2 separate regions of the Homo sapiens genome follow, and region 1 is linked to region 2. A link means that fine-mapping ties the variant in region 2 to the expression of a gene that starts in the linked region. Tissue or cell type: whole blood. Region 2 holds a variant in brackets; the other region holds the start of a gene. All regions are shown on one strand. Distances are between the middles of the regions.

Region 1 (8,093 bases), 110 kb after region 2:
GTGAGATGGTTAGCACCCCATGTGCTCAAATACTACATTAAGAGAAAACTAGTCCTGCCCTCTAGCATTTGCTAGTACTGCATTCAAGTAGTTGCCCAGTCCACCTCACAGGGCTAATACCAACCCTTAATGAGAATGTGACTAAGAATGTTTTCAAGTCTGCAATGCTCTAAGCAAATGCAATATTACTATTGTATATACTACAGAAGGCGGCACACCAAGATGCTTGTGCTGTTCAGTAGAAACTGTCCAAATTTAATTCATGCATTCAAAATAAATTTTCACTAACATGTTCCATAGCACAGGCTCCCTAATCACCAAACTAAAGCTTACACTGAATCTCAAAATTATTCCTCAATGTCAAATAGATAAAGGATTCGTTTTAGTGCCGGTTATGAAAGTTTCCAATGCCAACTTTCCGTAATACTTGATATTTTAAACCTAAAATGCACACCTGAAAAATGTCAGGACAAATTTCGAAGTGGCCGTTCTTTTAGTTAGATACTTCATCCCTAAATATTGCCCAAGTATTTTTAGTCGGGTAGTACTCTTAAGAACAACAAAAAAATAGCAATATACCTACCACTTACAGAACACTATGTTAAGCACAACTCTTAAGTAGTTTGACTGTTTCGTTTGTTTTTATTTTTATTTTTTTTGAGACAGAGTCTCCCTCTGTCATCCAGGCTGGAATTCAGTCATGTGATCTCGGCTCACTGCAACCTCCACCTCCCCGAGTAGCTGGGATTACAGGGGTGCGCCACCACGCTAGGCTACTTTTTGTACTTTTAGTAGAGATGGGGTTTCGCCATGTTGCCCAGGCTGGTCTCCTGACCTCAGGTCAGGTGAACCACCTGCCTTGGCCTCCCAAAGCACTGGGATTACAAGCATGAGCCCGGCCTGAAGTAGTTACCTGTTTTTACCCCATTTTAACATAAGTTCAAAGATGACTTTGAATAAATGGCACAACTGGCGTTCAATGCTCTTAAAGAGTAGGACATCTTAGTGCCTTTCATCTCTATTTCTACCTATCCCCTTACACTGGTAGCTCAAAAGCCTCTTCATTCTAGAAAAGGGTTATGTGCTACCTTCATAACGTTTTATAACCAGGAACTACTCACAAGTAGTTGGGAGAAAAAACTATACATGCAAAGTGTTTCATTTTTCTCAAAAAAGCCACAAAAGACCAAGTCACACAGTACCGCTGCCAACCTGTTTGCAAAAGATGCACTACATACCATGTTTATAAATCTTGTGTTTAAAGCTCAGTATGATACGGCCAAACCGCATGCATCATCAATGGAGTCACTGAAAACTGGAAGCAGATGCTATACTTTTAAAAAATGAGTGTAAGACTTCAGGCACCTAATTTCCAGAATTTCTATGAGCAAAAACACCACTGCGCTTTCTCTTGCTACCATCAATACTTTAAAGCACGGTAGGAACACAAACTTTCCTTTTGCACTTGTTATAGCACAATTTTGCTTTTTAAATAAGGTTCACTGTTGCCTAGAATCCTTAAAAGGACACTATAGCTAAATGGAAAATGGTAAAACTGGGAATACTCTGTGCTGCTGGTAGGTTGTTAAAGTGTCTGTTCAATTCAACATGTGTCAGCAATTAGAGGATTTAATATAATTGGTTCATTAACGGGTAGAAAATGCTTCCAAAGGAACAGATCAATTCCTAAAAAATATTACATATGACTACATTAAACTATGTATTCAATTAATTTGTGCCACTAAACTTCGTCTCAGGATTATTCCGGAGTTTGTGAAATCAACGCTCCCCTAATCACAGTAGACAGTAGTTTATTTAAAAGCTCCGCATAACCCACACAAGAGCTTATCTGAAGCCTGGTGCCACTGTTGCGGTGGGATGCAGACTTCCTGCCACCAAAGTCCATAACCTTCTCCTCTCAAATCACACATCTTTCTCTCCTCTGCCCCTAAACCCTTAGAAGAGGGGATTCTGGCTAAGAGAAAAAACCCGGGGGCCTGGGACCCATTGCAAGATTCTACTCCACAGATAGCAACAAGTCAACAACAAAACTGTTTACTTCCCCCCTAAGCCGGGTGTTTTTCCAATGGCGGATTCCTGGATCACAGTCACTAACACGAAGACACTACCACAACCCGCGATGACCCCTCCACCCCAGAAAAACAACGCGGGACTCCCGGCTAACATACCACACAGGGACAATCTGGGGCAAGCAAGGAGGAGAAAGGGCCTCGCTGGCTCCCTAACCTCCCCGCCACGTCCAACCTCTATCTCCAGGGCCCAGCGCGCAGCGGCCAATTCCTGCCTCCCCTCCCCGCCCCCACCCCTCCCCCACTCCTCCCCAATCTTCTGCGTCACAAAACTTTCCACTCCGGAAACGCAGCCTCCCCGGCTGCGGCGCAGGGCCCCCGGACCCTGCGGAACCTGGGCTGAAGCGAAAAAGCCAGCGGAAGGAACCCGGGAAAAAACAAGAAACCCATTCCATCCTCCTTTCCAGGCCTTCGCCCGCCCGAGACCCGCCGTCTCCCGGAGGTGAGCCACAGCGCCGCCCAGCACCACACAAAAGAGGCCGCCGCCATTACCCCGAGCGAAGGCCGCCCCCTCCCACATTCCTGGGCCGCGTTCTACCCCTTGCTCGCAGGCACGCAAACACCGGGTGCCGCCAGGTCCTCCGGACGGGAATCCAGGCTGCGCCAGCCGTGAAGGCCGAAGCCCTCCAAGCCAAAAGGGCCTCCAGTCGCGTCCCGCCGCGCTGCGCACTCCCGCAAACCCCCCCAGGTCACTAATCAGTCGGGATTCGCGCATGCGCGTCCCCGCGAGAGCGCGCGCACTTCCTCCCCCTCCGCCCGCCTGCGCACGCACACACAAAAGCCGCCATTGTGCTCGTCCCGGGGACAATACAGCGGGCCGAGACCGGGCCCGGGCGACAGCCCCAACCAACATTCCTATCCCTCTATAGCCCCGGGGCACTCACACCCGCCAGCCCGGGGCACCCAGAAAATGAAAAGTAAGGGTGCCGGTTAGCGCTGCGCCATTAGCCAGGTTAGGTCAGGGGAGGAATTCACGCAGCAGCCAGCCCGGTGGGGTTCTTGCGGCTCACCTGCTGGTCCAGCCCGAGCGCATTTTCCACTGCCACATGACTCATCCCTGAAGAGTACCGAGAACTCGGAGTCTTCCGCTGCTAAGCGAGTGTTTGTTCCACCGCGAAGGCCCTCTCACGGGAGAACTGCGGCTCTGGAGCGCACCGCGCGGCCACGGATCTAATATACCCGCTGGAAAGCCGGCTACGTCAGCACGTACAACGTGTGCCCTCCCTCTCACACCGCAATTCCCTGTCGCGGCGACTTCTGCCCGGCTACTGCGCGCTCCCTCAGGTCTAAGCTCAAGGGATTTCCTACTTAGTCCTGTCGCCCCTAGCAGTCCTGCCTTGGAGCTTAGGGTGCGAAATGCTGTCCCAGTTCTCTCGAGCTACACTTCCCGTGCTCTCCGCTAAAACCCTAGTCTCAGCCTCGGAGTTCTCGAGATCTCGCGAGAACTTGCGTCTCCCGCTTTCCACCGGCTAAGACGCCTGAAAATGTTAACCTAGGCCTCTTCGCCCCCCTTTCCAACCTTACGCATTCGCTCCCCTTTCCAACTCTATGCACTCAGCTTTCGTTTTTCGTTTTTTTTGTTTTTGTTTTTTTTTTCCTAACACTGGCCTTCACTCTTCTTCCTCTCTCAGTTCCCGGGCTTGGAGATGTGGTGGGATTTCTCCGGTCTAATCTGCCCTCGCTCTTCCGCGGGTAGCCTCCCCTTAGTGGGAGCTAGGCAGATTCCCGAAACTGAGAGGGCGGCAGGCCACGTGACCGTAGGTGTCGCGTGCGGTGGCCATTTTGTGAAGCAGGAAACGGTGGCTTGAATATAGAGTGCTCCGGACGGGGGAGGGGAGGGGAAGAGGAGGAGAGAACAGAGGGAAGGGGAGGAGAGGGAGGGAAAAGAGGGGAGCGGAGTAAGGGGAAAGGAGGAGGGAGGAGGGTAGGATGGTGACCGGGGCGGGAGTCGGGGGGAAATGGAGGGGAGCCGGCGGCGCGCGCAGGTGGCCGGACACCTTCCTGCGCGGTTGCCTAGGCAGCGGGGGCGCCGCCTAGAAACACACAATGGCCCCTCCTGGCCAACCCCCCGACGTGTGCGCGCGCGCCTCCGCCCCCGCCCCCCGCGGTGAGGGAACAATGAGACAGACACGCGCTGATCCGGAACCGCCGCTGGCGCGCCCTCCCGGGACCCCGGCTCTCCGCAGGAATGCGGGCTACATTTGCCCCTAGTTTCCTCCCGCGGGGCGCCCAGCGGCTTAGGGCCGGTGACCACCGGCGTTGCGGGGACCCCGCGGGTGGCGAACGGCTCTTCTAGGGCCCAAGGGTGTCGGGAATGTTTGTAGCCGGTGCAACCTGGGCCTGCCGGAGGGGCTGCAGCGGGGTTACCGGCCTGGGCTCGGGGTGACTCTCAGGCCGCTGCGGTGGATGAGGAACAGGAGGAACCGGGTTTCTACCGTCGGTGGAACCTCTTCCTGTGGTTCCCTCCTAGGCAGGCCACCCCAAGTCCCGGCTTCGGTGCCGCAGGCCCTTAAATAGAAGAAGGTGTTTACTAGTGGATTCCCGGCTTTGAGCCGGCGCCCGCACATCCGTAGTTTCTTATGACCGCTTTCCCCTCTCTTCTGACCCTCAGCCCTACGAAATTAAATAAAACGCAGTGGTTTCCACCACCCCCACAAAAGGTCTTCTGCTGCCAGAATTCAAATAGTTCGTGCTCATCACATAATTTACTATACACATAACTTCTCTCCCTTCTCAATTTTTAAAATCGAGACGGAAATTCGAACGAGATAGGGAGAGAATATCACACTGTCGGGGGCAAGTTGTTTAACGGCTTTGGGTCTCAATTTGCTCATCTATAAAAGGAGTCTGCTACATTCCATAACCCTGTGAAAGACCCAACTCCTTTTCATAACGAGTATTTTCTAACGCCCCCTTTACCTATACTGAAATAACAAAACCTAAATTGTTTATGTAAACCTACAAACACAATTTCAAAAAACATGATCTGTCAACAAACGAAAGCAAAATGATTATAATAAAACAATGTATTATAATATGTAAATGCCGCCGCACAGCTACACTAACTGGTGGGAAGACACTTGCCCAGTAGAGCCACAAATGCAAACTGGAAAGGTGTGTTGATTTCACAACTCAAGTTCCATGAGCAGCATTGCTACTAGGAACCTCATTTTCCAAAATGATGAACTATTAATAATTTTTAAATAAAACAGTACAATCTTCCTTCAATTGAAACAGTACCTGCATTTGTGGAAAATTCAGGATATATGGAAACTGGGCAAAGATACTTTGTGTTCATATGTAAAACAGTGTTAGTTCTAGGCTTAGATGATAATGAACTAGTTTTTCACCGACATGTGTCCAGTGATTCAATTATTCGCTCTGTGGGACTGACCAGCATCATAGAACATCCTAGCGTGCCTGGCTCCTGCCCACTAAATGCCAGTAGCTCTCGCCAGTCATTGTGACAACCAGAAATACACAGATTTCTACAATGCCCCTTGGAGAGCCACTAGGTTTAATGATATTAGGGTCCCTTCCTGCCCTGAGATTCGTGGATTCTCATGGAGTTTTGGTGAAGGACCTCGGTTTTGTTTCAGTTTCGTTTTCCTATGAACCAGGGTAAACATGAGTCAGGTTCGAAAACTGTGAGTTCCGACAGCTCTTCAAACTGCATATAGCAACAATGGGATGCACTGACTACCCTGGTTCTGGGCTTTGTTTTACTTTTGAGTAGAGCCGAGTACAGGGTACCGCCATGGGAGTACCTAAAAGAATTGAAATATACAGCAGTTCCCTATTTTCAATTAACCCCTGCTCATAGGCATACTTGGTTCAAACCACCAGGGTATTTTGTTAATCAATACGTTATAATTGGAATATCCAATTGGAGAGGAAGCGGGAAAACATACAAAGCTTTGTCTTTAAACACATTCACTTTGAAAAAGAATGATGTGCACACTTGAGGCAGCTAAATAAATGAGCCAACTTTCACAGCACTCCGAATGACTTTTCCGTTTAGCAACATTTGCATATTTTCTCCACATGGCAGTTATTTGCAAATTTTATTTGAAGTGACCTAAAAAAGGGTTAGAAATGGCTGAAACCAGGCCGGCCGCGGTGGCTCACGCCTGCAATCCCAGCACTTTGGGAGGCCGAGGCGGGCGGATCACGAGGTCAGGAGACTGAGACCATCCTGGCTAACACCGTGACACCCCGTCTCTAAAAAAAATACAAAAATTAGCCTGGGCGACAGAGCAAGACTCCGCCCCCCCCCAAAAAAAAAAAAGAAAGAAATGGCTGAAACCAGGGAAATTTTTTTTTGCACGCTCCCTTTCTTAATGTTTCCAGGCATTTTAACTGTTCATATTGAAGCAAATGTACTTCCTGCAACACCGCCCCCTCCCTCCACTTCCACCCCCATTCCTGGAGGTAGCGCAGTGAACCAGAGCCTGGGAATTGCAATTCCTCTAACTACCAGTTCAGCTCCCTGCTTACAGGCACCAGGCAACTCCCTTGACAGTGCCCTGGCTTCCTTATCTATAAAGTTGGAATAAAAGTAGTCTCTGCCTCCAAGAGTGTTTGGGATTCAAGGGCTTGTGCATGAATTGAAAGTGCTCTGCGAGGCAGGGCGTGGTGGATAATGCCTGTAATCCCAGCACTTTGGGAGGCCTAGGCACGCGGGATCACTTGATTCCAGGAGTTACGGCTTGGTGGCGCGCGCCTGTAATCCCAGCTACTCCAGAGGCTGAGGTGGGAGAATCGCTTGAGTCCAGGAGGTGGAGTTTGCAGTGAGCTGAGATTGCGCCACTGCACTCCAGCCTGGGCGACAGAGTGAAACTCGTCTCAAAAAGAAGGCGGGGGTGGGGGGGAGGAGAGGTAGTGTTTAAGATCTTTTTTTTTTTTTTTAAGTGTTTTGCAGGGAGTAAGAGCTTAGTACCAAGTGGCTCTGGATCCACATAACACGTGTCTAGCTCCCCATCCTCTCAACTCCCTTAGTAGAGTAGGTTGCTCTGGGCACTGGGCTCCCACAGTCTCCACTGTTCAAACTTCCACTGTAATTCCGTGTGGTACTGCAGCTGTGTGTGAGCCCACAGAGGACAGGAAATTTGTCACACCTCTCTATGCAGAATGGAGACAGAGATAGACTGAAATCACATTATTGCGATGCACATAAATAATGTGCCCAAGTAACCTAAAACCTGGGACAAAGATAATTAGACTATTCCGAAGCTAGAAGAAAAGGAGTTGTAAAAGGGATTCCAAGAGATAGGTACCTTAAAGCCTTTAGTGAATTTCATGATTGTCAGTCATTTTTCTGCAAGGTCCAGGGGAAGGGCCTCCTGGGTCCAGCTGATCCATACTTTTCTTTAGGGTGGATTTGGAATAAAGTTCAAAGACATAGAACTTCCCTATAATAAGAAGGATAATTATAGGTGTGGAGGTAAATGCAGTTCCGTACTTACTCTCTCTGTTTTTTGTTTTTTGTTTTTGAGACGGAGTCTCGCTCTATCACCCAGGGGCTGGAGTGCCATGGCACGATCTCGGCTCACCGCAATCTCCGCCTCCTGGGTTCAAGCGATTCTCCTGCCCCAGCCTCCCGAGTAGCTGGGATTACAGGCATGCGCCACCACGCCCAGCTAATTTTCTATTTCTAGTAGAGACGGGGTTTCTCCGTGTTGGTCAGGCTGGTCTCGAACTCCCGATCTCAGGTGATCTGCCCGCCTCGGCCTCCCAAAGTGCTGGGATTACAGGCGTGAGCTACCACGCCTGGCCTTAGGCAATTATTATACTCTCAAACAGCAGATCCGGCCTGGAATCTGCTTTCCTTCCTCAAAGAAGACAAGATCAAAAACAAAATTGTATCAAAGGGCATCTTTTCTACCACTAAAATTGCTAAAAATATTTTCAAACAGCAAAGCTCAGTGCATTTCTGCCTTTGTTCATGCAAAGTGACCGAAGACTGAAGTCTTGGAAGTATAGTGAAGGGGGTTGGGTCATATG
Region 2 (8,105 bases):
AATAGTTACTTGTGCAGGTTTGAGTGCTTATTTTTCTTTCTCCAGATTTAATGGCAGGAAAATCCTCTGTATCACATGAGGATTAACAGAGATGAAAGAATGTGTCTGCCTTTCGAATCACTAAAGCCAGTGACAGATTTTGCTGACATACCAATCGGCTTTATCCCCGGGCCTTGACCACCCTGGCCCTCCTGTCCTCTCTCCATCTGCCTGGCCCCTTTCTCTCCTTAAACCTTCCCCAGACCCTGCCCCGTTCCCTGACCCCAGCCCCAGCCCCAAGCAATATGTAGCCTGAAATTGGCTTCCTGCCACCCAAACAGCATTATCAGCATTTTCAACAAGGACGCATTATATAACTTGGAGAGCTGGAGAAGGGACAGGACAGCTTAAAATGTTTCCCCAAAATGCCGGCTGCTGATTTCCTTTCTTTGAAGTGGTTGATGGTGAATGATACAAAAACGGACTGGAGAGAGTCCTTCCACTACAAGAAGGCAAGAGGTTCCCACTGGGGTTAGGGCTGGTAGTGGTGGCCTAAGGCAGTGGGTCCAGGAATGGGACCTTCAGAATCTGGCTGAGGTTTCTGAAACCCACCAGGACTCAGTTTAGGCCCTGGCTACTCAGTGTGGCCGGTGGACCAGCAGCAGTACCTGAGAGCTCGTTAGGAAAACAGAATCTCAGCGCCTTCTACCCCCCGCCCCAGACCTGTTGAATCAGCATCTGCTTTTTTTTTTTTTTTTTTTTTTTTGAGATGGAGTCTCACTCTGTCGCCCAGGCTGGAGTGCAGTGGCACAATCTTGGCTCACTGCAACCTCCACCTTCTGGGTTCAAGCGATTCCCCTGCCTCAGCTTCCTGAGTAGCTGGGACTACACCATGCCCAGCTAATTTTTTGTATTTTTAGTAGAGACGGGGTTTCACCATGTTGACCAGGATGGTCTTGATCTCTTGACCTTGTGATCCACCCGCCTCGGCCTCCCAGAGTGCTGGGATTACAGGCGTGAACCACCGCGCCCGGCCAGCATCTGCATTTTAACTAGGTCGGCGGAGAGGGGGATTCCTGTGCCCGGTAAAGTTTGGAAAGCCCTGTTTTAGGAGACTGGTGGAGGGGGTCTGATCAAAATGAGGGTGGCAGGGGGGCCTGTTTATCTAGCCTTTCTGGCCAGCAGTTCAGGTGCCCCCACATTCTCCTGGCCCCAGCAAGCCTCTGCTGTCTGCTGGGACAGCACTTCCAGGTATCCATGGCAACCTGCCAAGTTCTGGCCACGCAGGACTTGGTGAGCCAGTGCTGATGAAAGGAAGCCAGGAGTTCCCTTCCCACAGAAAGGGTTCTGGATGTGAATCTAGACATCTCAGGCCACCGTGCCCTGGGGAATTTTTGTTTTCTTCCATTTGAGCCTTGAAAGCCAAAATGTGGCTGAACTTGTCTAACCTGCTGGAAAGAAGAGAATACTAGGGATGGGGTAGGGATGTGGGTGGGGGAGGCCTCTCAAATGACATCTCTATCCCCAGTGTTGGACTCGCCTGGCTTATTAGATGAGAGCAGTGGGCAGCCCTCTCATTGTGACCACCAGTGTCGGAGGTGTCCCTGTAGCCATCACCCCAAGCCTTAGCCCAACGAAGCCCCCACTCCCCCAGCAGCAGTCCAGAGGCTGAATCTCGACTGTAAGAGCCAACCTGTCTGCACCCACAACCTTTGTTCGCAGCTTATTGGTCCAACCTTCCCTTCAATCTTCTCCAGGCCAGTGGGCCTGGTGCTCTGGCACTGGGATCCCACTAAGGAAGACCTTCTTCTCCACCTGTGAACTGAAACATTTCTCCCAAGTGGAAAATAAGGAGGCATCAGAGACTCTTGGCATAAAAAGGAAGGAGCCCATCCACCAGGTGAGCTGGTACCACCGACTTGGGAGGATGAGCAGCCCTTAATCAAAACCTTGCTGCAGGGAGAAAAGCAGGTGGCCCAGGGTTGTTACAGGAAATGCGATTGACTGACTTCCCCTGGGAGAAACTTAAAGCTCAAGACAGGAGAAAGGCCGGCCCTTTCAGAGCCTACTCCAGCCACTCGTGGGCTGCTGGGGGAGGGATTTTTTCGTTTTTGTTTTTGAGATGGAGCCTTACTCTGTCCCTCAGGCTGGAGTGCAGTGGCGTGATCTCAGCCCACTGCAACCTCTGCCTCCCGGGTTCAAGCAATTCTCCTGCCTCAGCCTCCTGAGTAGCTGGGACTACAGGTGAGTACCACCACACCCGGCTAATTTTTTTTGTATTTTTAGTAAAGATGAGGTTTCACCATGCTAGCCAGTTTGGTCTCGAACTCCCGACATCAAATGATCCACTGGCCTCAGCCTCCCAAAATGTTGGTATTACAGGCGTGAGCCACTGTACCTGGCCCTCCTGGGGTGGTTTTGTACCCATGCTAGTTCTCACTCATCATGCAGTTGGTAGCCCATAAAAGGAGCTGAAGGAGGGAGAAGGGGTGTGTAAGTGACCTTGAGAAATAGTGATGGCCCAAGATGCATGATTTTGCCAGCCTCCACCTCCTGGATTCAAGCCATTCTCCTGCCTCAGCCTCCCAAGTAGCTGGAACTACAGGCGCCGGCCACCATGCCTGGCTAATTTTTGTGTTTTTAGCAGAGATGGGGTTTCGCCGTTTTGGCCAGGCTTCCCCACCTTGGAATTGGTAAGAATTACCGATTAATTAAGACAGCCGGCGACTACTGGAGGCTTTGCCTGCTATCTGGAGGACACAGATTTGCCCTCCAGCCTTTCTGCCCTGTAGTGACAATTCACAGACACCCCAACCCTGGGTAGCCCTTCCTGGGCCTTTGCTTTGCTCCTTTCTTTCCCCACTTCTCCACCTGCTGAAATCTCAATCTGCCTGCTATGCTTAGCATAAGCGCTACCACCTCTAAGAAATGAATCCCCTTCCAGTGCCCTCCTTTCTCACTTGCAGGCATCTGCCTCGAAGTTCACAGTGTTTGTTTGTTTGTTTGTTTGTTTGTTTGTTTGTTTGTTTTGAAACTGAGTCTCGCTCTGCTGCCCAGGCTGGAGTGCAGTGGTGCGCTATCGGCTCACAGCAACCTCCGCCTCCCGGGTTCAAACAATTCTCCTGCCTCAGCCTCCGGAGTAGCTGGGATTACAGGCACGCGCCACCATGTCCGGTTAATTTTTGTATTTTTAGTAGAGATGGGGTTTCACCATATTGTCCAGGCTGGCCTCAAACTCCTGACCTCAAGTGATCCGCCCACCTCGGCCTCCCAAAGTGCTGGGATTACAGGCGTGAGCCACCACGCCAGGCCTGAGCCACTGCGCCCAAAGTTCATAGTGTTTGGATGGCTGGCCTCCTTGGAGGGGCTGTGCTTGATCCAAGTCTGCACTCCCACAATGTCTGGCTGGTGTCGCCTTCAGACAGGGCAAGAGGCAGGGAGACACAGGGCAAGGAGTCATTGAGGCCAAGACACTTACCCACCCAGAACCACGTTCTGGATACCTGCGACCTGGGAATTCACTGCCCAACAGGTTCTGAACCCACTCCTCTAGGTCCAGTCTCCTGAAGGTGGATGGTCTCACCAATGTGCATACTCGAGAGGTGATCCTTTAGGGGGTAGACAGTTGCAGAGAAGGGGACAGAGCTTGGATATGAGGACGTGCGTGGGAAAGATCCGCTATAGCATGGGATGGATCCGGCCTGGGAATAGAGGGAAGCTACGCCATGGCCTTGAGCTGGGGCCACTCTCTGTGCCATCACACCCTAGCCCAGAATGCTGAGGAATGCAAGAATTGCAAACTTGAATTTAACCTTCCAGATTGTTATGAAGGTATATCTGCTCAGATAGGAGGATAGAACATGTTTTATTTAACAGTTTTTTAGCTTGATGTGTAGCTTTTAAATATTCAGACATACAGTGTGTGGTCCTCCGTGCGTACTCTTGCCCCAGGCCCCACAAAGCTGGGCCCAAGCCTGGGTTTGGCACACAGGCGGAAGTGCACAATTGTTTGCTGAAGGGAATTGAAGCCCATGTGAGAATTTGTAAGGGAGCTATAGAAAGAGAACCGGGTGAGTGACAGCCTTGGCCTCTTACCCTTCCTTTTTCTCTGACTTACTGGATGGTGTCAGGACAGGGACTTTCAGTTCCTAGGCCTGATTGTACTCGAAACATATTCCATAATCTTGTCCAGACCCCTCATTCTTCAAGTGAGGAAACTGAGGCCCAGAGAGATTAAGTGACCTGCTCCCCAGAGTGACATATGAAGGTGGAGCTGGGACCCAGTGGGTACCCTGTCCTCCTGCCTCCCAGTCCCTGGGTTTTTCTCGGGTCCTAATAAGGACACACACAGCCCCTGTGGCCACCCCCGACGTCCCCACTGCATGCCTCAGATCAGGATGGGGGAGGGGTAGCCACTCCCCTCTTGCTGGGCACCTCTAAATGACCTTGGCTGAACCTATTCTGTGGCTAAAGCACCCAACTCCCTTGTTCTTTATTCGCAAACTATCCTACTTCTGTCGTTTCACATCCGCCCTTCCAATCCAAACCCCAGCTCAGTGGGGTTGGATTGGATCAGCCTGGGCTCCCGGGCCTCATTTCTGGAATTGGAGGAAGGAGGAAGAGAGGCGAGAGTGCCCTCATTCCGCTGACTCCCAGTGTAGTGACAGTGACGTCGCCCCAACGGCAGGCCCGGACACAGTTAGGTGCGGGCTCGCGCCCCATCTGGTGCCCCGGGGCTCAGGGCGCGCCGCCGCGGTCCTGGAGGGGCAGTAGGCAGCGAGTCACTGGGCTGGACGTTTCCGCTCTGGCTCCTCCCTCCGCGGGCTTCAGAAAACTAGTTCAGCTCGCTGGCCCCGGCTGGCAACCGTGCGTGACACAGTGGTTTTTTTTTCCCATAAAGGTCACGTCCTTGCGAAACCTCTGCAGCCTCTGCCGGTAACCACCACCCCGGCCCCACCCTGGGGA[G/A]AAGGGGCGGAGCCTCCGGGGCGAGCCACGCCCCCGATGAGCCCGGTCCTGCCCAGCGTGGCCGCCAGAGGGCACCGAGGTTCGGGAGTCGGGGTGGGGCGGCCCCGGGACCTCTGTCTGCTCCCCGCCGCGGCACCCGCACCTACTCGGTGGGGGCGGGGGCCAGGGCTGGGGAAAGTCCCAGGGCGTGCCTGGTGCCAGAAACGTTCCTCACGCACCTGGAGTCGCAGAATGCCCGGGCTGGAAGGGATGCCAGGGTGGGGACCTAACCTGCCAAAGGTCACACCCTGGGGAAGATCTCCCAGTGCCGTGTCCTCCTGACCAGGCCGCGTAGTGCGCATGGCCTGTTTGTCACCTGTAAATGAAGGGTTAGCTCACCAACAGGCTCTGCCCACTGCCCACAAATACACCTTCCTGGGGCCTCTTCTGAAATCATCGTTCTTTACATTGCATCCAAAGTAGGTTTCTCTCCCATTGCAGCAGATGTCAAACAAAAAACAAAGTAGGTCTCTCCATTTCCCGATACAGTTGACCCTTGAACAATATGGGTTTACACTTCGCGTAACCACTTACACTTGGATTTTTTTTTCAATAAAAGTTACACCAAGGGCCGGGCGTGGTATTTTTGGTAGAGATGGGGTTTCACCATCTTGGCCAGGCTGCTTTTGAACTCCTGACCTGGTGATCCACCTGCCTCGGCCTCCCAAAGTGCTGGGATTAAGGGCGTGAGTCACCGTGCCTGGCCAGTTATTGTTTGTGTATGTGTGTGTGTTTTGTGGTTTTTTGTTTTTTTGTTTTTTGTTTTTTTGAGACAGAGTCTCACTCTGTCGCCCCGGCTGGAGTGCAGTGTTGCAATCTCAGCTCACTGCAGCCTCCACCTCCCAGGTTCAAGAGATTCTCCTGCCTCAACCTCCTGAGTAGCTGGGACTACAGGCATGCACCACCATGTCTGCCTAAATTTAAAAATTTTTTTTTGTTGAGACAGTGTCTCACTATGCTGCTCAGGCTGGTCTTGAACTCCTGAACTCAAACTATCCTTCTCCCTTGGCCTCCCAAAGTGTTGGGATTATAGGCGTGAGCCACTGTACCCAGCAGAGAATATTTGTTTGCTTGTTTGTTTTGAGATGGAGTTTCACTTTTGTTGCCCAAGCTAGAGTGCCATGGCATGATCTTGGCTCACTGCAACTTCCATCTCCTGGGTTCAAGTGATTCTCCTGCCTCAGCCTCCCAAGTAGCTGGGATTAAAGGCATGCACCACCATGCCTGGCTAATTTTGTACTTTTAGTAGAAATGGGGTTTCACCATATTGGTCAGGCTGGTCTCGAACTCCTGACCTCAGATGATCCATCCACCTTGGCCTCTCAAAGTGCTGGGATTACAGGTGTGAGCCACCTCACCTGTATATATAGAATATATATAGAATATACATAGAATATATATAATCCATATAGATTATACATAGAATATATATAGAATATATATAGAATATATATATAGAATATATATAGAATATATATATAGAATATATATATAGAATATATATAGAATATATAGAGATTATATATAATCCATATATATAGAATATATAGAGATTATATATAATCCATATATATAGAATATATAGAGATTATATGTAATCCATATATAGAATATATATAGAATATACATAGAATATATATAGAAAATATATAAGAATATATATAGAAAATATATAAGAATATATAGAATATATATAAGAATATATATAGAATATAGATAAGAATATATATAGAATATAGATAAGAATATATATAGAATATAGATAAGAATATATATAGAATATAAAGAATATATAGATATAGAATATAGATATAGAATATATAGATATAGAATATATAGAGAATATAGAGAATATATATATAGAGAATATATAGAGACAGAATATATATATTCTATATATTATATATAGAATATATATATATTCTATATATTATATATAGAATATATATATATATTCTATATATTATATATATTCTCTTACAAAGTTATGTTAGTTGACTCTTGATTGCAAGGTACAAGTATCTAACTCAAAACAGTTTAAGCTCAAAAGTGAATTTCCTGGAGAGAGGAGAGAATCAGGAGTTATAGTTTAAAGGGTATAGAGCTTCAGTGTGAGATGAGGGAAGCATTCTAGAGAAGGATAGTGGTGATGGTTGCACAACAATGTAAGTGTACCTACTGCTATTGAATTGTACTTTTTTTTTTTTTTTTTTGAGCCTCACTCTATCACCCAGGCTGGAGTGCAGTGGCACGATCTCGGCTCACTGCAACCTCCGCCTCCCAGGTTCAAGCAATTCTTTTGCCACAGCCTCCCACTCAGAGGCTGGGATTACAGGCGTGCATCACCATGTCTGGCTAATTTTTGTATTTTTAGTAGAGACAGGGTTTCACCATATTGGCCAGGCTGGTCTCAAACTGCTGACCTCAGGTGATCTGCCTACCTCGGCCTCCCAAAGTGTTGGGATTACAGGCGTGAGCCACCGAGCCCTACTTGCTTTTATTTTTTTTTTAATTTTATTGACCTGTGGTTTGACCATTTGGTGGATGGTGTTTCTGCCTTTCTGTGAATACCAAAACAACCTAATACATTGAATAAACTGGTTAATGTGTGCTAAACTAATGAAAGAATGAGTCTTTATTGTCCAATATAGGATCTTAGTTTTTTTATATGTTCGTTTGTTTGCAGATGGTATGATCTATGTACACTTGAAAAGAGACAATATTAACTTGTCCCATCTCTAATCTCTCCATAAGTCTGTTAAATTCATATTGTTCATGGACTTGTCTTCTAGCATGTAGCACAGACTTAAAATCTAGTAAGCCCTGAAAACAGTTTTTTGAAAGAATTATTCAATTATACAGTATTTTTCAATTTAGTTTGTGTCTATTTTTTCCAGAAATGGAATATTGAGGGTTCCAATTAAAATCATATTTACTTCTTCTTGCCTTTTTGTCTATTTTCTTTTATGGGTTTGTTACAATGGTTTTTGTAACACATACATTCAGTATTTTCAATTTTCATAATGTAATATACATTTGAGCATTATGTAATGACCTTATTTATTTATTGTACTGCCTTTTGCTATGACATGACATCTGCTTTATCTGCTACTAAAATAGTA

What was found. PIP is the estimated chance that this variant, and not a neighbour inherited with it, causes the effect.
Region 1: it holds the start of DDX3X, and the variant in region 2 is fine-mapped to the expression of DDX3X in whole blood (TOPMed, PIP above 0.99).

Annotation. Positions count from the first base shown.
Region 1 is chrX:41,329,305-41,337,397 of GRCh38, reverse strand. DDX3X (DEAD-box helicase 3 X-linked) reads right to left here and starts at 3,236. Exons shown (of 17, transcript NM_001356.5): 1 at 3,101-3,236. The coding sequence starts at 3,145. RefSeq lists an enhancer at 3,606-3,835 and a silencer at 3,926-4,415.
Region 2 is chrX:41,439,259-41,447,363 of GRCh38, reverse strand. It overlaps NYX (nyctalopin), which reads right to left and starts at 21. Exons shown (of 3, transcript NM_001378477.3): 1 at 1-21. RefSeq lists enhancers at 1,896-1,945, 2,066-2,135, 2,286-2,355, 4,275-4,344, 5,285-5,334 and a silencer at 4,665-5,174. The variant G/A (reference allele first, on the strand shown) is at 4,945.